Linked DNA regions of Homo sapiens: region 2 is linked to region 1. The links come from fine-mapping of genetic effects on gene expression. A gene starts in region 1. The other region holds a variant in brackets. All regions are shown on one strand. Distances are from middle to middle.

Region 1 (15,122 bases):
AAAGTACTCCATGCAAAATACCAATCCTCCGTTGGGACCGAATCGCAGAGAATCATCCTCCATTACATCATCCACCTCGATCAGTTCCCGGATGTCTGAAAAGGACAGATAGGGCCCAGAATATATGTGTCCCTTCAAAAATTGTTATCCTTACTAGAAATAGAACATAAAAGTTAATAATTACATAAAAAACCCATATGCAGGAAATTATTTATGTACATGGCTTTTCCCTGTAGCAGTGTCCATCAATAGAGAACTGAGCAAATAAATTATTGTACAGCCCGACAATGGAATACTACACAGCCATAAATGGGGAAAATCTCTTTAAGTATTAATAATAATACAATCTCCTAGGTATATTGTTCAGTGAAAAATGCAAGGTGCAGAACTGTGTAAGAATGCTATCATTGGTGTTAATAAAAGACAAAAATTCACTACATAGACATAATACATATACATCTTGAATTTTATGTGCACAGGCTATGAAAGAACACACCAGAAACTGGTAACACTGGCTGCTGCCAGGGAGGGGAGCTGATTGCTGGGATGCAGAGCTGAGAGGAAGATGTTTTCCTGTATACTTACTCTTTAGTACTTTTACATTATGAACCATGTGAATATGTATTACCTATTCCAAAAAAGTACAAAACCAAAAAAAGAAAACAGATTACCATTTCTTAACACAATGACACTAAGGAAACTATTTCACCTCCTTGAGCCTCACTTTCCTTATCCTGGGTTAGAAGGATGAGAACTATGAGATAATATATCAAAATCACCATCAGGGGCTGGGTGCGGTGACTCCTGCCTGTAATCCCAGCACTTTGGATGAGGCAGGCGGATCACTTGAGGTCAGGAGTTCAAGACTAGCCTGGCCAACATGCTGAAACCTGTCTCTACTAAAAATATAGAAATTAGGCTGGGCATGGTGGCTCATGCCTGTAATCCCAGCACTTTGGGAGGCCGAGGTGGGGGGATCATGAGATCAGGAGTTCGAGACCAGCCTGGCGAACATGGTGAAGCCCCATCTCTACTAAAAATACAAAAATTAGCAGGCATGGCGGCGCACGCCTGTAGTTCTAGCCACTCCGGAGGCTGAGGCAGGAGAATCACTTGAACCCAGCAGGCAGAGGTTGCAGTGAGCCAAGATCACGCCACTGCTCTCAAGCCCAGGCGACAGAGCAAGACTCCATCTCACTTTCCAACTTGGACCCAGCAGAATGGCTCCTGCAAAGAAGGGTGGCGAGAAGAAAAAGGGCCATTCTGCCATCAACGAAGTGGTAACCCGAGAATACACCATCAACATTCACAAGCACATCTATGGAGTGGGCTTCAAGAAGCGTGCCCCTCAGGCACTCAAAGAGATTCAGAAATTTGCCATGAAGGAGATGGGAACTCCAGATGTGCGCATTGATACCAGGCTCAACAAAGCTGTCTGGGCCAAAGGAATAAGGAATGTCCCATACTGAATCCGTGTGCAGCTGTCCAGAAAACGTAATGAGGATGAAGATTCACCAAATAAGCCATATACTTTGGTTACCTATGTACCTGTCACCACTTTCAAAAATCTACAGACAATGTCGATGAGAACTAATCACTGATCGTCAAATACATCAAATAAAGTTATAAAATTGAAAAAAAAAAAGACTCCATCTCAAACAAAAACAAACAAAAATAGAAAAATTAGTCAGGTGTGCTGGCATGTGCCTGTAATCCCAGCTGCTCGGGAGGCTGAGGCAGGAGAATCACTTGAACCCAGGAGGCAGAGGATGTAGTGAGATGACATGGTACCACTGCACTCCAGCCTGGGTGGCAGAGAGAGACTGTCTCAGGAAAAAAAAAATCACCAACAGGAGAGGCTTAAAAAATTCTGGTATGGTTATCTTACTAATTTTGGGGAATCAGTATATAGAATCTTCTACCTTAGGTTTTTACTTATTTTTGTGCTCAAACCTACATTCTCCATTCACAAAGGACTGAGCTTCATTCACAGTCACATTTATACTGACAACACCTTCCTACCCCCTCCCTCAGCAATCAATAACAGATAACTGATCCAAATTGGGACAATCAATCTGGCTTTCTTTCTTTTTAGACAGGGTCTCACTCTGCTGCCCAGGCTGGAGTGCAGTGGCATAATCATGGCTCACTGCAACCTTGACCTCGTAGGCTCAAGTGATCCTCCCACCTCAGCCTCCTGAGTGGCTGGGAATAAAGGCACCCGCCAGCATGCCAGGCTAATCTTTGTATTGACTTGTAGAGATGGGGTTTCACCATGCTTCCCAGGCTGGTCTTGAACTCCTGGGTTCAGGCCATCCATCTGCTTTGGCCTCCCAAAGTACTGGGATTACAGGTGTCAGTCATAGCGCCCATCCTAAGTCCTCTTTTTAACTAAGCTAGCTTAGAGTGGTTTCTGTTTGCTGCAGCCAAATGGTTCCAAAGTAATACAATGCCTTTTTTCTCAAAGAAAAGCATTTCACATCTCCTCCTCTCCCTTCAATCTGCCTCCCCGCAACCTGCTCACTCATTAACAGAAATCAGAAGTTTCCCTTTGCACTTAGTGAGTGCAAAGAGAACGTCCCCAAACCTAAAACGACCTGTCTCCCTCCACAGGAAATTATATCATACACTGAACAAAGCTGTAAGACCTCACCCTTGATTCCTTACTTTGCTATGCCTTCTTGGTTCAATCCCCCACAAAATGCTGTTAATTCAACTTGCAAAATATATTGAATCTGTCTGCTTCCTTACATCTCCACCGTGACCACCCTAGTCCTGGTGTACACCTGGCTAACTACAACAGCGGCAGTGCAGGTTGTACTTCTTTTTTTAATTTTAAAATGGAGTTTTGCTCTTGTTGCCCAGGCTGGAGTGCAATGGTACGATCTCGGCTCACCAGAACCTCTGCCTCCCGGGTTCAAGCGATTCCCCTGTCTCAGCCTCCAGAGTAGCTGGGATTACAGGCATGTGTCACCACACCCAGCTAATTTTGTATTTTTTTTTTTTTGAGACGGAGTCTCGCTCTGTTGCCCAGGCTGGAGTTCAGTGGCGCGATCTCGGCTCACCGCAAGCTCCGCCTCCCGGGTGCACGCCATTCTCCTGCCTCAGCCTCCCCAGTAGCTGGGACCACAGGCGCCCGCCACCATGCCCGGCTAGTTTTTTGTATTTTTAGTAGAGACGGGGTTTCACTGTGTTAGCCAAGATGGTCTTGATCTCCTGACCTTGTGATCCGCCTGCCTCGGCCTCCCAAAGTGCTGGGATTACAGGCGTGAGCCACCATGCCCAGCCATGCAGGTTGTACTTCTACTCTCAACCCACTAGAGTCCATTTTTCATCTGAGCACCTGAGTTATTTTTTAAAACATAAATCAGGCCAAGTGCGGTGGCTCATGCCTATTATCCCAGCACTTTCGGAAGTCAAGCTGGGTGAGTCACTTGAGCCCAGGAGTTTGAGACCAGCCTGGAAATCGAGACCAGCCTGGGCAATGAGACCAGCCTGGGCAACATGGAGAAACCCCGCCTCTACAAAAAATACAAAAATTACCCAGGCATGATAGTGTGTGCCTGTAGTCCCAGCTACTTGGGAGGTAGGAGGATTGCTTGAGTCCAGGAGGTTGAGACTGCAATGAGCTGTGATCAGGCTACTATACTATATAGCCTGGGTGACAGAGTGAGACCTTGTCTCAAAAACAAAACGACAACAACAACAAAAACAAAAAAAGGCCGGATGCAGTGGCTCACGCCTCTAATCCCAACACTTTGGGAGACTGAGGCCAGCAGATTGCTTGAGCTCAGGAGTTTGAGACCAGCCTGGGCAGCATGGTGAAACCCTGTCTCTACAAAAAAAAAAAAAAAAAAAAAAAAAAAAAAAAAAGTATAAAAATTAGCCAGGCATGGTGGCACGCATCTGTAGTCCCAGCTACTTGGGAGGCTGAGATGGGAGGATGGCTTGAGCTCAGGAGGCAGAGGTTGTGTCACTGCACTCCAGCCTGGGCGACAGAGCTGGACCCTGTCTCAAAAAAAAAAAAAAACCCCAAAACGTGTATCAAATGTCAATCCTTTCCTCTTCTTAAAACCCTCTAGTGGCACCCCACTGACAACAGGATAAAATCCCATCTTATCATGTCCTGTTAGCCCCTACCCACTTCTTTCTTTCAGACATTACGCTTTAGCTCACTGACATCTTAGCTTTCCTGGAGAATACCAAATCCTTTCTCACCTCCAGGCTATTTATTTATTTATTTTATTTTTCAGAGATGGATCTTGCAATGTTGCCCAGGCTGGACTTGAACTCCTGGGCTCAAGTGATCCTCCCACATCAGCCTCCCAAGTAGCTGGGACTACAGGCACATGTCCCTGCACCCAGCTTGGCATATTTATTGATCTAAATGTTCCCTCATTTTGGAAGGACTTTCCTCAGCCTGAGGAGCATATTACCATCCTTCAGGTCTAGGCTCAAAGATCCCCTCCTCAGAGTCACCATTCTCCCTGACAATTCTAGCTAAAGCAACCTCAATGAGTACTTCTCATGAGCCTGTCTGCAGTCATCACATTCTGTAACATGTTCATCATGTTGTTTATTGCCTATTTCCTAAAGGGTTGGTGTGGGCAGGGATAATGTCTGTATTATTCTCTGCTATAACTCCGGTGTCTGGCGTAAAACAGGTGTTCAACAGACACTTGAATGAACAAATTGAAAGAATTAAAAAAAACAAACCCAGGCTCCTGACTTATAGTGATCAGCAATATACCACATGATTCACTACAGCAGGACTAAGGACAAAAGGGACAGAATGAAAGGGTGCTGAGGGAAGTGTCCATTTACTTTTTTTTTTTTTTTTTTTGAGATGGAGTCTCGCTCTGTTGCCCAGGCTGGAGTGCAGTGGCGCAATCTCGGCTCACTGCAACCTCTGTCTCCTGGGTTCAAGCGATTCTCCTTTCTCAGCCTCCTGAGTAGCTGGGATTACAGTCACATGCCACCACACCCAGCTGATTTTTTTGTGTTTTTAGTAGAGACAGGGTTTCACCATGTTGGTCAGGCTGGTCTCAAATTCCTGACCTCGTGATCCACCCGCCTCGGCCTCCCAAAGTGCTGGAATTACAGGCATGAGCCTCCGCGCCCGGCCCCATTTACTTTTAAATCTTACATCAAAGACCAAGAAAGGATACTGTCACACATATCACCATGAACAGATGTGACCAAATGACAAGCTCATGCTATTTACCATAACACCAGGGATCCAGACTATAATAAGTATCAGTGCTAAGCAGCTAGTACTCACTGCCTCCCCAGCCCTTACTGTTCCTGAAGGTGGGGGGAGCCTTTGCTCAGGACTTACCAGCCATCACGGAGTAGTTGAAGTGTTCTGCTGCTGGATCCAGGTTTACAACTTGGACAGACCGGTTGAGGGCTTCACAGTGCTGGACCATGGTGGCACAGTAGGTGCTCTGTAATGTCACAAGGCATGAGAGGTTAAAGCAACAGGTAGTGTAGTGCTACCTTCCATACTCTGGAATACTATCCACTAAGGTCAAAACTATGCCTTCATCAACCAAGAGGCTGACTGACAACAAGGGAAAAAGATACCTGACTGGGCTGCAGATTCAAACCTGACTTAGACTCATGGGTACCTCTGGGGAATTTACTTCTCCACTCTGCCCTTCAATTTTCGTGTCTCTAACTGGGATGTCCTCCATAATCACTAAGGCTCCTTACTGTTCTAAATGTGACAAGCGGTATTTAAAGGGAAGAGTTCTGGTTACATAGTGTAACACCTAACACAGTGTCTCTACCAGGACTTGTACAGTGCAAACAAAGCTTTAGGTAGGATGGTCAGGGATGATGTCTCTGAGTAGGGGAGATATGAGTATATGAGAAGGAGTTTGCCAACCTAAGGGGAAGAGCATTCCAAGATGAAAGAACGCCAAGATCAATAAATAGTCTGGAGGTGGCTATCAGTTTGTAACTTTTGGTTTAGATAATTCTTTATCCATTATGTAGTTGTTACCGTACTATGTTAACATCTCGGGCTGGGTGCAGTGGCTCACACCTGTAATCCCAGTACTTTGGGAGGCTGAGGTCGACGGATCACCTGAGGTCAGGAGTTGGAGACCAGCCTGGCCGACATGGTGAAACCTCGTCTCTACTAAAAATACAAAAATTAGCTGGGCGTGGTGGCGTATGCCTGTAATCTCAGATACTCAGGAGGCTGAGGCAGGAGAATCGCTTGAACCCGGGAGGCAGAGGTCGCAGTGAGCTGAGATCACACCACTGCACTCTAGCCTGGATGACAGAACAAGACTCCTGGCTCAAAAAAAAAAAAAAGTCTCTAGGCTACTTGTCTGTGTCATACTCTGTTTAAAGGCAGAGATGTGTCTTATTCAGTTTCCCAAGCACAGGGACTAGCGCAATACCTAGTACATAATAAATACTTGATAATTGTTTCTAATTGACTTATTATGTTTAAAGATAAGCTCCACAAGGGCACGGATTTTGTGTGTGCATGTTTTTTTCCCCATACAACCCCCAGGGCCCAAAACAGTGCCTGGGATAAAGAACGTACTCAAGGAATGTTTCTGATAGTAAGCATCAAAAGCTTATAAAGATACTTGTTTAATACAATCAGCCCAAAAATTAAAATAGACTATAGAAAAAACATCCATCATGCTGTCCTCTCAGTGCCTTTACACATACTGTTGTCTCTGTCTGGAATGCCCTCTCCATACATCACACACTGTATCTTTTTTTTTTTTGCAAAGGGTCTCACTGTCACCCAGGCTGGAGTGCAGTGGCACCATCATAGCTCACTGCAGCTTTGACCCAGGCTCAAGCGATTCTCCAGCCTTAGCCCCCCGAGTAGGTGGGACTATAGGCTCTCGCCACCATGCCCAGCTAATTTTTGTATTTTTGGTAGAGACAGGGCTTCACCATGGTGCCCAGGCTGACCCTGAACTCCTGGGCTCAAGTGATCTGCTGGCCTCAGCCTCCCAAAGTGCGAGGATTACAGGCTTAAGCCACCACACCTGGCCACATCACACTGTATCTTAATTGACAGGTCATCTATTTGTCTTCCCCAAAAGACTACAGACTCTGGGTAAGTTAAAGGCCATAGGTATCTTAGTTACATGTACATGTTTTTACCCAGAATAAGTCAACAGCTTAGAACAATGTGTTTGTTAAAGACTGAGGCCACACAACACCTCCACAGACTCTAGTGTTTCCACACTTCTTCTTTTTTTTTTTTGCGACAGTACCTCTGTCACCCAGGCTGGAGTGCAGTGGCACGATCACCACTCACCACAGCCTCAACCTCCTGGGTTCAGGTAATCCTCCCACTTCAGCTTCCCGAGAAGCTGGGACTAGAGGTACCTGCCACCAGGCCTGGCTAATTTTTGCATTTTTTTGTAGAGACAGAGTTTCGCCGTGTTGCCAAGGCTGGTCCCAAACTCCTGGGCTCAGGCGATCCGTCCACCTCCATCTCCCAAAGTGATAGGATTACAGACGTGAGCCACCACGCCTGGCTATGTTTCCCACACATATGTTATTTGATCCATATCTTCACCATTCTCACTGTATTTGAATGTTCCTAACATTCCCTTAATATTTGTTTACAAGAAAAAATTTTATCCCTACTGTAAACTGAAAACCACTTATATTTGACATAACGTGAAATTAGACATAAAATTATATAAAATCTTTAAATGTTCTATTTTTAGCTAAATACAGGTGCCTATTAAAAGCTCTGAGACTAAGAACTGCTCTCTGAAAAGACCTGGGGATTAAAGAAGTGCTGAAGATACACACTAGCACCGAGCACAACTTCTCCTAAATGCGAAGTTGAGAACTGAAAGAGAAATGAAAAGGGAACAATTTCCCTAACACATTATCTGATGCTCCTTAATGTGGGGTCCATGTACCACCTACCACCTAAAAGCACCTTAAATACCAAAAGTCCATGTCCCAAGTTCTGAGAAACAGTAATTAATGAGACCCCACTTTACCCTCCTGGGAGCGAGACAGGGCCGGATTCTGGAGTTGAGACAAAACTGGATTTATATTTTTTTGCGGGGCAAAGAACTTAATTAACCTTTCTGTATCTCGTTTTCTGTAAAATGAGAAAAATGAGATCTCTCTCACAGGGTTGTTGTAGAAATAAGCGAGGCGTTTCATCTGCTGCCTGGGGCTTAAGTATACAATAAATATTAACAACTACCATTATTTCCCTTTCAAAACAACAACAAAAAAGAACGTGAAGCCAGACAGCAGAAATGAGTTGCGTGGGGTCTCAGGGTTCCCAGTACACACACCCGCCGGCTCACTCCCTCAGGACCCAATCTCCCGCCTTCCACGAACTCCTACTTTTCTCTCCTTGTCCCCGCAGATCCTCACCTTCCCGCTGCCCGCGGGGCCCATGACCAGCTGCGCATACCGAGGCATGTTGGCTCCCGGAGCCGCCCGCCACACTCCCTTAGCCTTCGCGCGACGCCCACTGAGCTCCGGGAAAGTGAAGTGCGAACCAATCGCAATCCACATTCTTTCTACGCCTCCAGTTCTACCACACCTCCTACTACGGGGCAGCCCGCGGGCCAAATCCCGTGAGAAACGCGTCCTGAGAAAAAAGGGGAGGGGCGAGGGAGAGGATTTGCGCGTGCGCAAAAGTAGTTGATGGAAATCGGCCGTTGGGATGCTGTCTAAGCTTGGATACCTGAGTAATAACGGACAACAGATAAAGCTCCGCATCCTTGCGCCACGTGCTTCGGTCCGTGGTTTGCGTGCAGACGTTTGACCTGTATGGTGACCCTCGCGATTTGCAAATGTGCTGAGGATCTGGAATACTGAAGTGGAAGGCACCTCTTGTTTTGGGGAGCATGTATATTTCCCTCCTGTGACGCACTGCTTCCACAGAGAGGTGCAAACGTGCAAACGCTCAGCGACCGCAGCGCTCCTGCCCCTCCCCCACCGTAACTCCGGGGTCGCGGATCTGCCCGCCCCGCTCTCCCGAAGCTGTTCGGGCAGTGTCCGAACGGCTTCGGAGGGGCGAGAAGCCAGCATCCGAGCCGCCTCTCCGGAATACCAGCAGCCTGACGCACGCGTGCTGTCGGGGGAGGGATGCTGGGACAGCTGCTCCCGCACACGGCTCGCGGTCTCGGCGCCGCGGAGATGCCCGGCCAGGGTCCGGGGTCCGACTGGACGGAGCGTAGCTCTTCTGCAGAGCCGCCCGCTGTGGCCGGGACCGAGGGTGGCGGCGGCGGGTGAGGTTGGGGGCCCCGGGGTAAGGGTGGCAGCATGGGGCCCCCGGGTCGTGAGGCCCCCGGGTCGTGAGCCCCGTGGAGGAGGGCTGCGGCCGACCTCTCGTCTCGGGGGCTGGCCCCGGTGCCCTCAAGTGAGAGGCGGGGAGCAGTTTTGTTGTGGACAGAGGGCAGAGGGGAGGACTGCCTCGCGGTTGAGGGAGGGTCTCTGAGGGAAGCTTCGGAGGAGCGTTTGGTGCAGTGGCCACGAGGTGACTGCGACAGTCGCCCGCGTGCATCTCTCTGCCCCGAGGGGGCGCTGCGAGCCCTGCTGGGACGTTTGCTGTCTGGCACAGGACTGTGTGTCCACCGAAAGGCGAGGCGGGAGGGACAGAGGAGGAAGATGTCCCCCGGTTCAACTGGGGGCATCCAGGCCCATAAACCAGTTCCTTCCCTCTAGTGACATGAGCCACCTTCCTGTCAAACGGGGATTTCTTTTTCTTTTTTTTTCTTTTCTTTCTTGTTTTTTGAGAGCGAGACAGTCTCGCTCTGTTGCCTAGGCTGGAATGCGGTGGTGCGATCTCAGCTCACTGCAACCTCAGCCTCCCAGGTTCAAGTGATTCTCCTGCCTCAGCCTCCCGAGTAGCTGGGATTACAGGCGCCTGCCACCACGCCCGGCTAATTTTTGTATTTTTAGTAGAGAGGTGGTTTCACCATGTTGGCTAGGCTTGTGTCGAACCCCTGACCTCAAGTGAGCCGCCCGCCTCGGCCTCCCAAATTGCTGGGATTACGGGGTGAACCATTGCGCCCGACCTCAAACGAGGATTTCTAATCGCCAATGAGACCAATGACTGAATATCCGAGGTGCCTTGATCTTGACATTTTCTTCACACTGAAGTTCCTTTTTTCACAAATCTATTTCGTTTTGAGCAGGTTTTTACACCTATTTCCTAGATAGTGAAGACAGCGAGCTGTTGAAGTCACTGCTGGAGACTCTACCTCCTCTTCCTCTCCCTACTTTATTCCCTAAAAGCAAGAACTGCGATATGTTTGCCGTTCAGTACAACCCGCAGTCAGGGCCCCTGTTGCACCCATGGCCATCCTTTTTGTTTTTTTTTTTTTGAGACAGAGTCTCGTTCTGTTGCCCAGGCTGGAGTGCAGTGGTGCCATCTCAGCTCACTGCAAGCTCCGCCTCCCGGGTTCACGCCATTCTCCTCCCTCAGCCTCTGGAGTAGCTGGGATTACAAGCGCCTGCCACCACGCCCGGCTACTTTTTTGTATTTTTAGTAGAGACGGGGCTTCACCGTGTTAGCCAGGATGGTCTCGATCTCCTGACCTCGTGATCCGCCCGCATGGCCGTCCTTTTTGTCTCTGGTGCTACTGAAGACTTCTTAAAGATGGGATGGAGTCTTGGGTTTCTTTTCTGTTCTTCACAGTCCTTGGCCGACTGCAGGATCCTGGTGTATCAGGAGATACGTGAATTTTTTTTTTTTTTTTTATTGAGACAGAGTCTCCCTCTGTCACCCAGGCTGGAGTGCAGTGTCACGATCTCAGCTAACTGCAACCTCCGCCTCCTGTGTTCAAGCAATTCTCCTGCCTCAGCCTCCCAAGTAGCTGGGACTACAGGTGTGCGCCACCACGTACCTGGCTAATTTTTGTATTTTTAGTAGAGATGGGCATGAGCCTGTAATCCTGGAAGGTTCTATTATGATCCCCACTTTATGGATGACAAAACAGGCACAAAGAGGTTGTTTGTCCTTTCCTTTTATCTCCGCCTGTCGTTCATCTCCATGCTTCCTTTAGTTTATCCAAACTCTTAAAACTACAATTAAAAAAAAAGACAGTATGCCCTTCAGTTTGGTTTAAGGAACCCCATTAAAAAACACAAACCAAGACTAATTTATGAAAAGCTTATATTCCCAGAAATACAAAATAAAATTTTCAAACTAGAATCAGGTTTATTATGCTACATGATACAATGTTGGCACTGGCAGGGGTCTTAAAAATCATCAATTCCGGTCATATTTACTAATCTGAAAGGGGAAGTGATCTGCCAAAAATCCCATTATTAACTAATGGGAACTCCGGAACTCCTTACTTTTTTTCTTCTTTTTTTTTGAGATGGAGTCTCGCTCTGTCACCCAGGCTGGAGTGCAGTGGTGTGATCTTGGCTCACTGCAACCTCCGCCTCCCAGGTTCAAGCGATTCTCCTGCCTCCTGAGTAGCTGGGACTACAGGCACGTGCCACTACGCCTGGCTAAGTTTTTGCATTTTTAGTAGAGAACGGGGTTTCACCATGTTAGCCAGGATGGTCTCGATTTCCTGACCTCGTGATCCACCCGCCTCGGCCTCCCAGAGTGCTGGATTACAGGCGGGAGCTACCGTGCCCAGCACTTTTTTTCTTTAAAGTCAGGTTTATTGAGGCATAATTTACACAAATTAAAGTCTTACTTTTTCATGTATAATATGATGGGTTTTGACAAATGCACATGGCTATGTAAGCACTGCCACACTAAAGATACAGAGCAGCTCTATCACTCCTTCAAAACTCCCTCATACCTTATAAAGTCAACCTTTGAGAAAGGAAGACACAGGAGGGTTGCCAGCAGAGAAGTGATGTGATCTTACTTTACTTAAAAAGGATCACGCTGGTTGCTAGTTGGAGAATAAACTAGAAGGAGCAAGCGTAGAATTAAGAAGTTGGAATACAAGAAAACGATATGGTGGCTTGGAATAAAATAGCAAAGGAAGCGGCGGTGAAAAGTTCATAACAAAAACTTTATAAACTTGGCGCCTGGCCCATGAACTCTTGGTCATTGAATAAATTGCAGGATGAGGATCAGTTGTTTTGTCTTAAGTTTAGAAAAGAAAAAGAATTTGTACGAAATTAGAAACATTACAGACCAACTTATTAGTTCTAGCACACCTTAATTACTATTCAAAGAACAGTCTTTCGGCATGGCGTGGTGGCTCACACCTGTAATCCCAGCACTTTGGGAGGCTGAGGCGGGCGAATCAGTTGAGGTCAGGAGTTTGAGACCGGCCTGGCCAACATGGCGAAACCTTGTCTGTACTAAAGATGGAAAAATTAGCCGGGCGTGGTGGCGGGCACCTGTAATCCCAGCTACCGGGAGGCTGAAGTGGGAGAATTGCTTGGACCTGGAAGGCGGAGGTTGCAGTGAACGGAGATCACGCCATTGCACTCCAGCCTGGGCAACAGAGCAAGACTCTACCTCAAAAAAGAAAAAAGAAAAAAAAAAAAGAACAGTCTTTTCAATACCCAAATCACTTCATTAAAAATAAAGACAGCAAGATAATCACATGGATAGCCCAGGAGCCCCAACTACTTTATTGAGCTCACTGTAGGAATGAGATTAGGAAGCTATAAAATTAAGACCCAGGATAGGCATGGTGGCTCACATCTGTACAAAAATTAGCCAGGCGTTTTGGTGGTCCTGGCTACTTGGTGGCTGAGGATCGTTTGAGCCCAGGATTTTGAGGCTGCGGTGGGCTATGATCACGACACTGCACTCTAGCCTGGGTGAAGGAGGGAGACCCCATCTCTAAAAAAGGAAAGAAAAAAATCTTGGAGCCATTAGGATTTAACCAGAATTATAGGAAAAAATTTGTAAGACATTATTTCTGATGGAAACATGAAAAGTAAAAATAATATGCAACACTATCCTTTTTTAAAATTTGAAATATGTTGGTTGGGTGCAGTGGCTCACACCTTTAATCCCATCACTTTGGGAGGCTGAGGCAGGCAGATCATCTGAGGTCAGGAGTTTGAGACCAGCCTGGCCAATATGGTGAAACCGTCTGTACTAAAAATACAAAAATTAGCTGGGTGTAGCAGCGCTAGTCCCAGCTACCTGGGAGGCTGAGGTGGGAGAATCACTTGAAACTGGGAGGCAGAGGTTCCAATGACCTGAGATCATGCCACTGCACTCCAGCCTGGGTGACAAAGTGAGACCCTGTCTCAAAAAAAAAAAAAAAAAAAAAAAAAAAAATTGAAATATGTTGTTCAGTGCTTGTAACATTGTAATTATTACATATTATTTATATGCTTTATTTTTTCAACAGATCAGCTGGATACTCTTGTTACCAGAATTCCAAAGGTTCTGGTGAGTAGTGCATATAAAGCAGATAATACTTATAAGTAACATGGTTCTGAGAAGCCTATTTGTCTGTAACTACTTACACAATAGAGTTTTTTTCTTTTTTCTTTTTTTTTTGAGATGGAGTCTCACTCTGTTGCCTGGGCTGGAGTGCAGTAGTGCGATCTGGGCTCACTGCAACCTCTGCCTCCTGGGTTCAAGCGATTCTCCTGCCTCAGCCTCCTGAGTAGCTGGGACTACAGATGCGTGCCACCATGCCTGGCTAATTTTTCTATTTTTAGTAGAGACAGGGTTTCGCCATGTTGGCCAGGCTGGTCTGGAGCTCCTGACCTCAGGTGATCCACCTGCCTCCGCCTCCCAAAGTGCTGGGATTACAGGCATGAGCCACCACACCCAGCCCACAATAGAGTTAAAAATAGATTGTATTAGCATCCTTGGTGAACTTAGTCTTTAAGATTTCAAAGAGCAATCAGGGAGGTTTTTCTTGTCTGTTGGTACAGTATATTTTACATCAAGCATTTTTAAAATTAGCAGTGAATCCTAAAAGAACTGTATTTATAGCTGACGTTGGTTGAAAAGCACAGAGCACAGCCTGGGGTTTATACATGGATAGAAGAAAAAAATTCTAAATTGAATAGCTTCAAAGAATACAAAATATTTCTCAGTGCTGATGTTTTCCTCTCACTTGAAATAAAGAATAGAGCTTTCAAAGTATTCACCTCTTCTCTGCTGGAGTTAAGAGAGTAGGTAAAACAATCCCCCAAAGGTCTCTCACTAATTGCTTTTTTTCCCTTGGGAGAGGAGCTGGAATTAACTGACTGTAGGAGTGTGTGTGTATGTATATATATTTTAAGTATAGTAGTTATAATAGGTTTTAAATGTTTCATTTAAATTCAGTGATACATAAACCTGGGTTCACTTTGCTTTTCCTTGGTAAATATATAGTCATTACAGTTACCTGGGAAAAAAATATACAGACATATATGTGTGCATATATACATATATAAATAAATAATATGGTCATTTAAAAAATGTGTTGCAGTCTGGGTTCATTAATTTAGATTCCTCACCAAAATTCTTACTGAATTATAGTTCAGTGTAAAAAAGAAAGGAAACACAAAACAATATAATTATTAGTAATATATTCCAGATGTGGAGGGAAATAAAGAAATATTAACAATTATCAGTATATTAGATTGACTTAGTTATATAAAAGAAAAATTTCTAAACAAATATATGCCTAGTAAAAACTCTGAAAGGCAATATGTCAAAGTGTTTTAAAATAATTACTACTAGGCCGGGCACGGTGGCTCACACCTGTAATCCCAGTACTTTGGGAGGCCGAGGTAGGTGGATCACCTGAGGTCAGGAGTTCAAGACCAGCCTGACCAACATGGTGAAACCCCGTCTCTGCTAAATATACAAAAAAATTAGCCAGGTGTGGTGGTGCACGTCCGTAGTCCCAGCTACTCGGAAGGCTGAGGCAGGAGAATCACTTCAACTCAGGAGGCGGAGGTTGCAGTGAGCTAAGATCATGCCACTGCACTTGAGCCTGGGCGACAGAGCGAGACTCTGTCTCAAAAAAAAAAAAAAAAAAAAAAAAAAAATGCTGGGCGCCGTGGCTCACGCCTGTAATCCCAGCACTTTGGGAGGCTGAGGCGGGCAGATCACCTGAGGTCAGAAATTCGAGACTAGCCTGACCAACATAGAGAAACCCCGTCTCTACTAAAATAAAAAATCAGCTGGGTGTGGTGGTGCATCCCTATAATCCCAGCTA
Region 2 (15,122 bases), 160 kb after region 1:
AGAAATCATGGCATATTAACAAAACCTTCCCCTTCACCTCACACATTTTTTTTGCAGAGTGCATTATACCTTTTACGGGGTACTATTTTTTTTTTTTTAATTGCCCAGGCTGGAATGCAGTGGCGCAGTCTCAGCTCACTGCAACCTCCACCTCCCAGGTTCAAGCGATTCTCCTGCCTCAGCCTCCCAAGTAGCTGGGATTACAGCCGCGCGCCACCATGCCTGGCTAATTTTTTTGGTATTTTTAGTAGAGATGGGGTTTTACCACGTTGGCCAGGCTGGTCTCAAACTCCTAACCTCAGGGGATCCACTCTTCTCAGCCTTCCAGAGTGCTAGGATACAGGCGTGAGCTATGGGATACATTTTTCTTTTCTCTTTTTCTTTCTTTTTTTTTTTTTGAGATGGAATCTTGCCCTGTCACCCAGGCTGGAGTGCAGTGGCACGATATCGGCTCACTGCAAACTCTGCCTCCTGGGTTCAGGCTATTCTTCTGCCTCAGCCTCCTGAGTAGCTGGGACTACGGGTGTGTGCCACCATGCCCGACTAATTTTTGTATTTTCAGTAGAGACGGGGTTTTACCATGTCGGCCAGGCTGGTCTGGACCTCCTGACCTCGTGATCCACCTGCCTCAGCCTCCCAAAGTGCTGGGATTACAGGCTTGAGCCACTGCATCCGGCCGCTGTGGGGTACATTTTTCTAAAGCTCCTTTTTATCGTGAAATAATTCATACGTACAAATAAGAATGTTGGGTGGACACTAGCAGCATTTGCTTCAGATTCCTTTTTTGTTAATTTTGTTTTTTGGCTTGAGATCTTTTTTTTTTTTTTTTTGAGATGGAGTCTCACTCTGTCATCCAGGCTGGAGTGCAGTGGTGTGATCTCAGTTTACTGCAACCTCTGCCTTCTGGGTTGAAACGATTCTCCTGCCTCAGCCTCCCTGAGTAGCTGGGATTACAGGCGCCCACCACCATACCTGGCTAATTTTTGAATTTTTTTTTTGAGATGGAGTCTCGCTCTGTCGCCCAGGCTGGAATGCAGTGACGCGATCTCGGCTCACTGCAAACCCCGCCTCCTGGGTTCACGCCATTCTCCCGCCTCAGCCTCCCCAGTAGCTGGGACTACAGGTGCCCGCCACCACACCCAGCTAGTTTTTATATTGTTAGTAGAGACGGGGTTTCACCGTGTTAGCCAGGATGGTCTCAATCTCCTGACCTTGTGATCCGCCTGCCTTGGCCTCCCAAAGTGCTGGGATTACAGGCATGAACCACCGCGCCCAGCCTAATTTTTGTATTTTTAATAGAGACAGGGTTTAACCATGTTGGCCAGGGCAGTCTCAAACTCCTGACCTCAAGTGATCTGCCCGCCTCCCAAAGTGCAGGAATTACAGATGTGAGCCACCGTGCCTGGTTTGAAATCTTCTTTTGAAAAAGAAAACGTTACAGATAAGATTGAAGGTTGATCTTACTTCTTCCCTTCCAGCAATAATTGCAACTATAAATTCATTCTCTATTTTTTAAAAGGGTTTTCTTGTCCTTATTTGACAGAATAAGATAGAGAATTAAAAATCCAGATAATCATCTTTGTTGCAAAGCGGCAAAGAAAAATCATCCTTATTAATGATTAAAAGTTGACCAGGAGTGGTGGCTCACACCTGTAATCCCAGCACTTTGGGTGGCTAAGGCTGGCAGATCACTTGAGGTCAGGAGTTTGAGACCAGCCTGGCCAACATGGTGAAACCCCGTCCCTAATAAAAATACAAAAAAAAAAAAAAAGTTGGGCGTGGTAGTGCATGCCTTTAATCCCAGCTACTCAGGAGGCTGAGGCAGGAGAATAGCTTGAACCCAGGAGGTGGAGGTTGCAGTGAGCCAAGATTGCACCATTGCACTCCAGCCTGGGCAACAAGAGCCGAAACTCCTTTAAAAAATAAATAAATAAATAAAATAATTAAAAGTTGTGAGGTGGGGGAGATTCCTACCCCGCCCTCATACCTTATTGTCTAAATCACCAAAGACATTCTGAGCACCTGAGCCGGTATGATTCTTGGCCAAGGGTCTGTGAATATGAGTTCAGCTTTAAAGCAGCAGGTTATACGTGAAGAGGGGGCAAGATTGAAAAGTCTCTTTCCTGAAGGTTTAAGTGGGCCCTTCCTCTGAATCGTAATCTCTAGAGGAGGGGCTTAAGGACTTTGGAGTTTTAAACTGGTGGTTCTTATGGTCAGGCAAATGGTTTAGGGGTGCTTGTTCTTAAACTTGTCTAATTATAAGCATCACCTGGAAAGTTTCTGAAAACTGCAAATGCCTGGGTTTCATATTCAGCTTACGAAATCAGCATCTCTGTAGGCAAAGCACTAACAGAACTTTCCAAGCGAGTCAGATCATTAGCCACTTTGGGGAAACCTCTGATTGTGGGATGCTCAAACTGACTCATTTCCACTTCACAAATTTCCCCCAAAGTGCAATAGGAAAAATAAAATGGATCTTTTTTATGAAATTGACTTATGGTACACTGTGGTGGCAGGGGGCAGTCACCACCTGCTGATGGTGATGTTCTGGATCCTACCCCTCTTTTTTCTGCAGTTGCTGTTCTCTGTGTCTGTGACTTATCCCCAGCACAGTGTGACATCAACTGCTGCTGTGATCCCGACTGCAGCTCCGTGGATTTCAGTGTCTTTTCTGCCTGCTCAGTTCCAGTTGTCACGTAAGTTTACGTATGACACATGCAATTTTGAAAAAATTTGACCAGGATAATACAATTTGGAGAAAGGGAAAACTTTCCCAGGCTTAAAAACCCAAACCTGATTTCCAGTGTTTTACGTCGTTCTGAAGCCATACCGTCCAAACAAATATGTAAAAAAGTAGCTATCCCTGGCAGGGCGCAGTGGCTCACGCCTGTAATCCCAGCACTTTGGGAGGCTGAGGTGGGTGGATCACGAGGTCAGGAGATTGGGACCATTCTGGCTAACACGGTGAAACCCCGTCTCTACTAAAAATCCAAAAAAATTAGCCGGGCATGTTGGCGGGCACCTGTGGTCCCAGCTACTCGGGAGGCTGAGGCAGGAGAATGGCGTGAACCCGGGAGGCAGAGCTTGCAGTGAGTGGAGATTGCGCTACTGCACTCTAGCCTGGGTGACAGAGCGAGACTCAGTCTCAAAAAAAAAAAAAGTAGCTATCCCTTATTTGCATTCAGCCAGGTGACTGTGCAGGCAAAAGAGAAGAGAGAATATACATTAAAATAATGTAATGAAACCTCTGTGTTTGAAGATTGAATTACATTTCAATTTGAGTTGTAGACAGTGGTCACATTTTTTGTATCAGTGAATTAGTATAGCCTAGGGTGAAAAGTGCATTTTAATTTCACAGCTTTTGTTGTGGACATAGTATTTGTAACAAAAAATTAGATAAGAAATCTGTACTTTTCTGATATGTAAATCTACCAGGAATTCTCACAGTTCGCATTGTATAGAACAATGAAAAATGACATTTCCAGCTGATTATAAGGTAAATAAATAATCTGTTCTGAATGATCTCTTATAATTGAGGTTTCAAGGCTTCTTTTTTTTTTTTTTTTTTATGAGATGGAGTCTCGCTCTGTTGCCCAGGCTGGAGTGCAGTGGTGTGATAGTGGCTCACTGCAACCACCGCCTCCTGGCTTCAAGCAATTCTCCTGTCTCAGCCTCCTGAGTAGCTGGGACTACAGGTGCACGCCACGATGCCTGGCGTATTTTTAGTAGAGGTGGGGTTTCACCATATTGGTCAGGCTGCTCTCGAACTCCTGACCTCAGGTGATCCGCCCTCCTTGGCCTCCCAAAGTGCCGGGATTTCAGGTGTAAGCCAACGCGCCCAGCTTCAAGGCTTTTTGAAAAACTAGGAGCACTTAGAAGAGGCTCATTAATTCAGGATGGGACCAACTTAGTATTCAGAGATAGCTAATTTAAATTTAGCCTTATAGCAAGTTTTAGCAATTGATACTTGATAGGTGAACCCTTTTAAGAAGTACAATGGGTTTTTCCTGTGAGAAACTATTTTATTGACCAATGGGATTTTGAGCCTATTTCTAGTATTGTAAAAATGCTCAGAGAACAGGGCAATGTAGTCAGATTAATTTTCTGGCTACCTGGCCTGTAGCATGTTTCAGTATTTGTTGAAAGTCATTCTGTTTTCCTCCCTTTAGTAAATACAGGAGCCTGAAAGTGACATTTTTGCTCCAACTTGGGGCTATTTTTTTTTTTTTTGAGACAGAGTCTTGCTCTGTTGCCCAGGCTGGAGTGCAGTGCCTCCATCTCGGCTCACTGCAACCTCTGCCTGCTGGCTTCAAGCAATTTTCCTGCCTCAGCCTCCCAACGAGCTGGGACTACAGGCGTGTGCCACCATGCCCAGCTAATTTTTTGTATTTTTAGTAGAGACAGGGTTTCACCGTGTTAGCCAGGCTGGTCTTGAACTTCTGACCTCGTGATCCGCCCACCTCGGCCTCCCAAAGTGCTGGGATTACAGGCGTGAGCCACTGCGCCTAACCTGGAAGATCTCTTTTCTCCTTAACCATTAGTACCTAGTAGAGCTCCTGCCACATAGTGGGCCCTCGTTAAGAATGAGTTGAATTGGCTGGGCATGGTGTCTCACGCCTGTAATCCCAGCACTTTGGGAGGCTGAGGCATGTAGATCACTTGAGGTCAGGAGTTTGAGACCAGCCTGGCCAAGATAGTGAAACCCCGTGTCTACTAAAAATACAAAAATCAGCTGGGCGTGGTGGTGGGTGCCTGTAATCCCAGCTACTCAGGGGGCTGAGGTGGGAGAATCGCTTGAACCTGGGAGGCAGAGGTTGCAGGAGCCAAGATCGCACCATTGCACTCTAGCCCGGGCAACAAGAGCGAAACTCCATAAAAAAAAATAATAATAATAATAATGAGTTGAATGGATGAATGAATTTCTCCCTTCCACCTCTAACTGATTTCCTAGTGTCCCTTGTTGACTTCCTCTACCATTAGTCTTTTAGGCCGACACCAGGCCAAAAACCTGGAGGCTCCCCTGACCCTTGCCTCTTCCTTTCCTTTTCCTGTCTCAGCAGTCTTTCCTTTCTCCCAACCTTTCTTGAGTACCTCCTGAATGCCAGCACCAGGGACATAAAGATGAGTTAGGCACTCTCCTGCCTTCAAAGAGCTTACCGTCGAGTAAGGGAGACAGAGGAGTGGATGGCAGTTTCTACATCAAGCACGATGAGAAGGCAGAGGAATGGCATCTAACTCAGCCCCACTAAGGAATGCTCCCCAGAAAACAGGAGCTGAGCTGGGTCCTGAAGGACACGTGGAAGATGGTCAGCATGGACTGAGGGGAAGGGCATTCCAGGCAGAGGGAACTGCGTGGACAGAGATGGGGGGATGTGGGATGGCCTGCTTAACTGCAGGTAACTCAGTGTGGCCAGAAGAGGGGTGGGGTGAGAGGAGTGTAGGAAAGAGATCAGGGGTCAGGTCCCCAGGGGCCTTGTGTATATGCTAAGGGGTTTGGACTCTGTCCTGAAGTCCACAGGGCCTGGGTTGTAAGAGGATCAGATTCCCATCTTATGTAATTCTGCAGCATCATATGCAGTGGATCACAAGGCCAAGCCTGGTGGCAGAGAACCAAGTAAAAAGCTATTGCAGATGCGGATTAACGGTTTCCCTCCCCATCCTCCCCAAAAGCTGTGACAGTGGGGCTAGGGAGAAGTATCTAGATCTGATGATGATACTGAAATACTGCACAGGATTGGGGAGGTGGCTGACTGGAGGGGAGTAAGGAATCCCATTCTGTGGAGCCTTCCATCACTCTAGCCCTCGTGGTCGTCCATCCCTGCTCCTGCTTTATGAGCTCACACCTCATCCTGTCAAGCACTCACTAAAAGACCTTCAGAAGTTCTCATTATCTATAGGCTTCTTAGCCTGGATTCAGATTCATTCCCACCTTCTTTCAGAGCCTATCACCTGCTACCAGCCATCTCAAATCCACTCCAGCCCAACCTTGGTACTCAGAGTTTCCCAAAGACCATGAGTCGTTACCCAGCCTTGGCCATTGCCGTTCTTGCACTTGGATTTGCTTCCCATTCCTACTGTCTGTCTGATTTCTACTTATCCTTTAAGGCCCAGTAAAAACGGAATGATAATATCCAGTCTTGGCAAGGGTACAGGGAAATAGGCACTCTTACTACAGTGTTGGTGAGAATGTATATTGTGCCCTTCTAGAGGGCAATCTGGGAGTGTGTCTCAGAAGCTTTAAATAATGTTACCTGCCTTTTGGTTTAGCAGTTCCAGTTCAGGAAACATATCCTAAGGAAACAACTGGAGACAGTCATAAAGATGTATGTATAAGGTTGTCATTATAGCATTACATATAATTGGGGAAAATTAGAAACCTAAACCTAAACCAACGATCATAGCTCGCTGTAACCTTGCTCCTGGGCTCAAGCAGTCCTCCTACCTCAGCCTCCCAAGTAGTTAGAACTATAAGCATCTGCCAGCATGCCGGGCTAATTTTTTCTTTGTTTTCTGTAGAGATCGGGGTCTGTGTTGCCCAGGCTGGTCTTGAACTCCTGGCCTCAAGTGATCCTCCCCAGCCTCCCAAAATGCTGGGATTACAGGCATGAGCCACGGTGCTTGGGCTGTACCATATCCATATCTATATTGGTTAAACAAATTGGGGTATTAATAGGCTGGTATACGATGATGAAGCCACTTATAATATTGTAAGTGCATATTAGGCATTATATATTAAGTGAGAAAAGCCTTAAAACAGTATGTAGAATATGGTCCCATTTTTATTATGACTATCTCTATACTATTATCTGTCTGTCCAGCTATCTGTCTATTTTTTTTTTTTTTTAGAGACAAAATCTCACTTTGTGGCCCAGGCTGGTCTTGAAATCCTGGCTTCAAGTGATCCTCCTGCCATGGCCTCCCAAAGTACTGGCATTGTAGGCGTGAGCCACTGTGCCCAGCCTCTATGTTTTTTTGAGATAGGTCTTGCTCTGTCACCCAGGCTGGAGTGCAGTGACACGATCATAGCTCACTGTAACCTTGCTCCTGGGCTCAAGCAGTCCTCCTACCTCAGCCTCCCAAGTAGTTAGTACTACAGGCATCTGCCAGCATGCCGGACTAATTTTTTCTTTGTTTTTTGTAGAGATAGGGGTCTGTGTTGCCCAGGCTGGTCTTGAACTCCTGGCCTCAAGTGATCCTCCTCAGCCTCCCAAAATGCTGGGATTACAGGCATGAGCCATGGTGCTTGGCCTGTATCTGTATCTATAGCAAATTGATTGGGATTTGTCAAATCTGGGATTGGTTGAAGACTTAACTCATAACTTCTTTTTTTTTTTTTTTTGGGAGAGAGAGTCTCACTCTGTCGCCCAGGCTGGAGTGCAGTGGCACGATCTTGGCTCACTGCAACCTCCCAGGTTCAAGCAATACTCCTGCCTCAGTCTCCCCAGCAGCTGGAACTACAGGCACATGCCACCACGCCTGGCTAATTTATTTTTGTATTTTTAGTAGAGACAGGGTTTCGCCATGTTGGCCAGGCTGGTCTTGAATGCCTGACCTGAGGTGATCCGCTCACCTCGGCCTCCCAAAGTGCTGGGATTACAGGCATGATCCACTGTGCCTGGTCCTGTACCATAACTTGTAAGCACTAAACCTTCCAGACGACTGATCTCAGGTGATCCACCCGCCTCGGCCTCCCAAAGTGCTGGGATTAGAGGCATGAGCCACTGTGCCTGGCCCTGTACCATAACTTCTAAGCATTAAACCTTCCAGATGACTCCACATTTTCTTA[C/T]TCTCACAGTCCTTTGAAGACAGCTTTATTCTAAAGACAAGGAATTTGGATCTATTCTGGGTACTTTTAAACAATCTGAAGGTCTGCAAAATTTTATCTAATTGATGCTATCAGAGTTTGTAAAGTTCACTGACATAAAAATTATACCCTGATCTACGTTCTTGACAAGATTTCCTTAAAGGTTATTCTACTTGTCTCAATTTTGTTTTTTTCTGTTAGAGGAAAAAGTTTTAAATGCCAAGCTTTTTCTTTTTTAAAAAGAGATGAGGATCTCACTATGTTGCCAGACTGGCCTCGAACTCCTAACCTCAAGTGAGCCTTGCATCTTAACCTCCTGAGTAGTTGGTAATACAGGTGCATGCTACTGTGACTGGCCCAAATGCAAAATATTTCAACACAGAATAAACTAAATAAAAATGGATTCAGCCAGCTGTGGTGACTCATGCCCAGCACTTTGGGAGGCTGAGGCAGGTGGATCATCTGAGGTAAGGAGTTTGAGACCAGCCTGGCCAACATGGTGAAACCCTGTCTCTAATAAAAATACAAAAATTAGCCAGGCATGGCAGTGCACACCTGTAGTCCCAGCTACTCGGGAGGCTGAGGCAGGAGAATCACCTGAACCCAAGAGGCAGAGGTTGCAGTGACCCGAGATCGTGCCACTGCACTCCAGCCTGGGAGAGTGAGGCTACATCTCAAAAAAAAGGATTCAATTTTTTTTTTTTTTTTGAGATGGAGTCTCACTCTGTCACCAGGCTTGAGTGCAGTGGCGCGATCTCGGGTCACTGCAACCTCTGCCTCTTGGGTTCAAGCGATGTTCGTGCCTCAGCCTCCCTAGTAGCTGGGATTACAGGCACCCACCACCACGCCCAGCTAATTTTTGTATTTTTAGTGGAGATGGGGTTTTACCATCTTGGCCAGGCTGGTCCCCATCTCCTGACCTTGTGATCCGCCTACCTCGGCCTCCCAAAGTGCTGGGATTACAGGTGTGAGCCACCGTGCCCAGCCGGATTCAATTCTAATATGCTTTCTTTTTTCTTTCTTTCTTTCTTTTTTTTTTTGTGAGACAGAGTCTTGCTCTGTTGCCCAGGCTAGAGTGCAGTGGCGCGATCTTGGCTCACTGCCAGCTCTGCCTCCTGGGTTCATGCCATTCTCCCGCCTCAGCCTCCCAAGTAGCTGGGACGTCATGCTTTCATAAATATCCTCCACGTAACTGTTAACATAGTACAGTACAAGCATCTGACAGTTTTAAAATAATTTTGCTAAGATTGTGTGCTTATGTCTTGTAACTTTGTATTATTATTTTTTTAATTTTCAGGGGCGACAGCCAGTTTTGTAGTCAAAAAGCAGTCATCTATTCATTGAATTTTACAGCAAACCCACCTCAAAGAGTATTTGAACTTGTTGACCAGATTAATCCATCTATTTTCTGCATTCATATTACAAACTGTAAGTATTTGACATTGATATATTTTGTGAAGCTCTGGAAAATTTTTCTCAAAGTTATGGAAAAATGTGTCAGATTTATTTTATAATTATGATTATGGTTTTTTTGAGACAGAGTCTTGCTCTGTCACCCAGGCTGGCGTGCAGTGGCGCAATCTCGGCTCACTGAAACCTCCACCTCCCAGATTCAAGTGATTCTCCTGCCTCAGCCTACTGAGTAGCTGGGATTACAGGTGCCTGCCACCATGCCTGGATAATTTTTGTGTGTGCGTGGTTTTTTTTTTTTTTTTTTTTTTTTGAGACGGAGTTTCGCTCTTGTTGCCCAGGCTGGAGTGCAACGGCTCAATCTCGGCTCATCACAAATCCTCTGCCTCTTGGGTTCAAGTGAGTCTCCTGCCTCAGCCTCCCAAGTAGCTGGGATTACAGGCATGGGCCACCATGCCTGGCCAGTTTTGTATTTTTAGTAGAGACGGGGTTTCTCCATGTTGGTCAGGCTGGTCTTGAACTCCCGACCTCAGGTGATCCACCTGCCTTGGCCTCCCAACGTGCTGGGATTACAGGTGTGAGCCACTGTGCCCAGCCCTATTATTACTATTTTTTCTTTCTTTCTTTTTTTTTTTTTTTTTGAGGCAGAGTCTCACTCTGTTGCCCAGGTTGGAAAGCAGTGGCACGTTCTCAGCTCACTGCAACCTCTGCCTCCCGGGTTCAAGTGATTCTCCTGCCTCAGCCTCCCGAGTAGCTGAGATTACAGGTACCTGCCACCACACCCAGCTAATTTTTTATTTTTAGTAGAGACAGGGTTTCACCATGTTGGCGAGGCTGGTCTCAAACTCCTGACCTTAAATGATCCTCCTGCCTCGGCCTCTCAAAATGCCGAGATTACAGGTGTGAGCTGCCTTGTCCAGCCCTCAGTTAGATTTAAAGCAATTATTCTGTTTTGCTATATGTATAGTGTATATCTTTAGAGACCATTTCACAGGTAATAGGAAGTAACTTTATAGACCTGTGGGCATGCACATTTTCTTTAAAAGTAATTATGATTGTGTAGTTGTCTTTCGAAACCGTATACTTATCTTAAAAGTGTTTATAATATGCAGACATACATAGGAATCTAGGTTTCTATATATACATGTGTTTTTTTAACTTTATTTCCTCCTGGTTTAATGGTTGAAAATCAGGCTCAGCTTTGAACATTACCTGTGGTTTCTATTTCCTTTTTTCTTTTATTTTTACTAAGAATATTTGCATGAAAACAGGATCTTTATTTTTATCTGAGCATTTAGCTCAAATATATGTCTAGATCCAAAGTACATGTACATGTAAAATGTTATCAGGATATCAAAGATCAGAGACACGTTTATGCTTTTATTTGTCAAATTCTGTCATATTTTCAGAATATCTTTATAGATTTTGGTTTTGTTCTCTTGTGATTGAAAACAGGCAGATGCTCTGTGTGATTTGTAATCTGAAGTGATAACTGGCCAGTGACTGTCAGGTTCTCTGTCGTAACACCAGCCCAGTGAACATGCCAGCCTGCTTCCTTCTCTCTCTTCTGTACACAGCACATTTTACTCCAGGACTTTCACGGTGGCTGTGTGAGAGTAGAAGTCGGATTCTTTCATTCCCATAGCCATCCGGAGAGAGCTTCTCCTTACAGGTTGATACAGCAAACTCATCAGTCCAGGGGCTAGAGAAATAGACGGATTATTATTGGCTTCTGTTGTGCTGTTTACTTGTAAGTGCTACAAACTATTACTTCCCCATTATTAGAAGAAGCAGGCTGAGTCTGGAGGTCCTGTTTGTTTAATAAGCTTTAAAAAATCCTGGGAGAAGTGAATATGGAAAAATACACTTTTTTTTTTTTTTTTTGAGATGAAGTCTCACTGTGTCACCCAGGCTGGAGTGCAGTGGCGCTATCTCAGCTCACTGCAACCTCTGCCTGCTGGGTTTCAGCGATTCTCCTGCCTCAGCCTCCCGAGTAGCTGGGATTACAGGTGCACACCACCATGACTGGCTAATTTTTGTATTTTTAGTAGAGACAGGATTTCACCGTGTTGGCCAGGCTGGTCTCAAACTCCTGACCTCAGGCAGTCCGCCCGCCTTGGCCTCCCAAAGTGTTGAGATTACAGGCGTGAGCCCATGCGCCCAGCCAAGACACTATTTGTTTTTTACATCAGCCTTGATGCTATTAAAAACTTTCCAAAACCTTTATATAGGTCATACATATTATACATATATTTTATACCGATTTAAAATACTGTTTTTTTTAAAAAACAGATAAACCTGCATTATCCTTTATTAATCCAGAAGTACCTGATGAAAACAATTTTGATACATTGATGAAAACATCTGATGGTTTTACATTGAATGCTGAATCATATGTTTCCTTCACAACCAAACTGGATATTCCTACTGCTGCTAAATATGAGGTGAGCCTGAACTTGATTGATTCTTTTCATCCCATCACAAATATCTTTCCTTGTAAGTTAATTTTCAAGGTTACCAGGAAAACTGGGTTCCTTGAGACAGAGTTGATATTATAGACTAAAAAACTTAATGTTCATGCCTACAAATCAAAGATCATGAAAATTAAAACTGAATATTTGAAGATGGATTAAAGACTTAAATGTAAGACCTAAAACCATACAAACCCTAGAAGAAAACCCAGGCAATACCATTCAGGACATAGACATGGGCAAAGACATCATGAGTAAAACAACCAAAAGCAATGGCAACAAAAGCCAAAATTGACAAATGGGATCTAATTAAACTAAAGAGCTTCTGCACAGCAAAAGAAACTATCATCAGAGTGAACGTGTGACCTACAGAATGGGAAAAAATTTTTGCAATCTATCCATATGACAAAGGGCTAATATCCAGAATCTACAAGGAACTTAAATAAATTTACAAGAAAAAAACAACCCCATCAAAAAGTGGGTGAAGGATATGAATAGACACTTTTCAAAAGAAGACATTTAAGTGGCCAACGAACCTATGAAAAAAGGCTCATCATCACTGGTCATTAGAGAAATGCAAATCAAAACTGCAATCAGATACCATCTCACGCCAGTTAGAATGACGATTATTAAGAAGTCAGGAAACAACAGGTGCTGGAGAGGATATGGAGAAATAGGAACGCTTTTACACTGTTGGGTGGGAGTGTAAATTATTTCAACCATTGTGGAAGACAGTGCGGCGATTCCTCAAGGATCTAGAACCTAAAATACCATTTGACCCAGCAATTCCATTACTGAGTATATACCCAAAGGATTATAAATCATTCTATAAAGACACACGCACACGTATGTTTATTGCAGCACTATTCACAATAGCAAAGACTTGGAACCAACCCAAATGTCCATCAGTGATAGACTGGGTGAAGAAAATGTGGCACATACACAACATGGAATGCTAAGCAGCCATAAAAAAGGATGAGTTCATGTCCTTTGTAGGAAACCATCATTCTCAGCAAACTAACATGGAACAGAAAACCAAACATCGCATGTTCTCACTCATAAGTGGGAGTTGAACAATGAGAACACATGGACACAGGGAGGGGAACATCACACACAGGGGCCTGTCAGAGGGTGGTGGGCTAGGGGAGGGGATAGCATTAGGAGAAACACCTAATGTAGATGATGGGTTGATGAGTGCAGTAAACCACCATGGCACGTGTATACCTACGTAACAAACCTGCATGTTCTGCACCCGTTATCCCAGAACTTAAAATATAATAATAAAAATAAAACTGAATATTTGAATTCTGAATAGAGGATTTAAGGTTGTTTATTCTGTGATAAACTTGTATTTTGTCTCTTCAGAGTTCTTTGTTCTCCTCAACCTTAAAAGATGCAGCAAAATGCTTGAGGCATGTTGCTGAGATCATGGAGTAGATTGGTTGGTTGTCTGGTCATCTTCTCAAAATTGTATTTAGTTTTACAGATTTTGGAAGATGTGTGCTGTTTTATGTCTATTCAGTAGTACACCTTTAAATGGGACACATATTAACTGAATGAACCTTAACTCTTTTGGAAGCATCTTTTTAAAAGCAAAGTATAAAAGCAACATGTACTAGTTCTAAAAGTTCAACATATAGAGGCATATAAGTTGAAAGATCCCTGTATCCATTAATATTCATACTGCAAATCACTTTGAAGAGATTGGTGTGTATTCTTCCTGATTTTTAAATATGTCTATTATAATGTATATATGGTGTTGTATAGAAGTGGGATTTATAGGTATCCACATTGTTCTAGAAAATTCCTTTTTCAGTGATAAATCATGTGCATCTTCCCATGTCAATATAAAATTTACCATTGAGCATTTTCCATGTGCCAGGCACTGTGAAGAGCTTTTCAGGCATTACTTCATGCACCCCCCTGGGAGGGATGCACCATTGTCTCCATTTACCTGATGAGAAAAACTTAGGCACAGGAAAGCAACTTGTCAGAACTAGTGATAGAGCTGCGTTGTTGTTGTTGTTGTTGTTGTTTTTGAGATGGAGTCTTGCTGTGTCGCCCAGGCTGGAGTGCAGTGGTGTGATCTTGGCTCACTGCAACCTCCGCCTCTCAGGTTCAAGCAATTCTCCCACCTCAGCCTCCCAAGTAGCTGGGATTGCAGGCACCTGCCATCATGATCAGCTAATTTTTGTATTTTTGTAGAGATGGGGTTTCACCATGTTGGCCAGGCTGGTCTTCAGCTAATTTTTGTATTTTTGTAGAGACGGGGTTTCACCATGTTGGCCAGGCTGGTCTTGAACTCCTGACCTCAGGTAATCCGCTCGCCTCGGCCTCCCAAAGTGCTGGGATTACGATGTGAGCCACTGCACCCAGCCCTAGAGCTGTAGTTTACAAAATATTCTTGGCTGGGCATGGTGGCTCACGCCTATAATCCCAGCACTTTGGGAGGCCGAGGCGGGCAAATCACTTGAGGTCAGGAGTTCCACACCAGCCTGGACAATATAGTGAAACCCCATGTCTACTAAAAATACAAAAATTAGCTGGGCGTGGTGGTGCGTGCCTGTAGTTCCAGCTACTTGGAAGGCTGAGGCATGAGGATCGCTTGAACCCAGGAAGCGGAGGTTGCAGTGAGCTGAGATCATGCCACTGCACTCCAGCCTGGGCAATAGAGCAAGACTCCATCTCAAAAACAAACAAACAAACAAAGCCAAAATATTATTTTCTGTGTATGTATCTGAGCTGTTCCACTCTTAACAGACATGTTTCCAGTTTTTGCTGTTATCCACAATGAACATTCTCATATATACATACATTTTTGTACACTTCACTGATTAAATCCTTAGGATACATTCCTATAAATGAGTTAGTTTGGTAAAAATGAATGGAAAATTTAAATATTGATACCAGATTGCCCTCCAGAAAAATTGCAGTGCTTTACACTCCCAGCTCCAGTGAGTGGAAGGAGTTGTTTCCCATACTCCTGCTGGCACTAAAGCATTTGGATAAACTTTCAAGTTCGAGAAAATTGGCTATAAGCCTAATAGCTATTAATCTGGGTTTTGAAGATTGGAAAATAATTTTGTGGGGTTTGGTTTTGGGAAAGAAGGCATTCTTTCATAAAACTGATTTATAAAAAATTGATTTTTATGATTTTAATGTATACTGTATATGTTATTTAAATAATTAATGCTAGCGAAAAATAATTCTCTCAACCCTGTGTCCAGCCACCTAGTTCCTGTCTGCAGAGGCAGATCGTTATGTCATTGTCTCATGTACCCTTCCAGAGGAATTCCATGACTAAGAAGCCTGCAAATACAGTAACATGCACATACAGAAACACATCCTTTTAAAAATGGCGACACAACTAGATGTGAGCTTCTTGAGGGCAAGGACCACATCTGTTTTTTGCTCATCAGTGTGTCTCTGATGCCTGC

Evidence for each region. PIP is the estimated chance that this variant, and not a neighbour inherited with it, causes the effect.
Region 2: its variant is fine-mapped to the expression of GPN3 in whole blood (INTERVAL, PIP 0.96).

The regions. Positions count from the first base shown.
Region 1 is chr12:110,459,768-110,474,889 of GRCh38, forward strand. It overlaps GPN3 (GPN-loop GTPase 3), which reads right to left and starts at 8,490. Exons shown (of 8, transcript NM_016301.4): 1 at 8,389-8,490; 2 at 5,339-5,447; 3 at 1-95. The coding sequence starts at 8,436. It overlaps FAM216A (family with sequence similarity 216 member A), which reads left to right and starts at 9,078. Exons shown (of 7, transcript NM_013300.3): 1 at 9,078-9,251; 2 at 13,311-13,351. The coding sequence starts at 9,109. LOC124903016 (a long non-coding RNA gene) reads right to left here. Exons shown (of 3, transcript XR_007063459.1): 2 at 10,872-11,049; 3 at 10,522-10,684. It also overlaps the pseudogene RPL31P49. RefSeq lists enhancers at 8,602-8,731, 9,652-9,821 and a silencer at 9,142-9,451.
Region 2 is chr12:110,617,261-110,632,382 of GRCh38, forward strand. TCTN1 (tectonic family member 1) reads left to right here. Exons shown (of 15, transcript NM_001082538.3): 2 at 2,576-2,696; 3 at 9,102-9,232; 4 at 11,507-11,658. It also overlaps the pseudogene RN7SL387P. Among named protein-coding and RNA genes, the nearest start is that of TCTN1, 11 kb to the left of the region's middle. RefSeq lists an enhancer at 2,273-2,492. The variant C/T (reference allele first, on the strand shown) is at 7,787.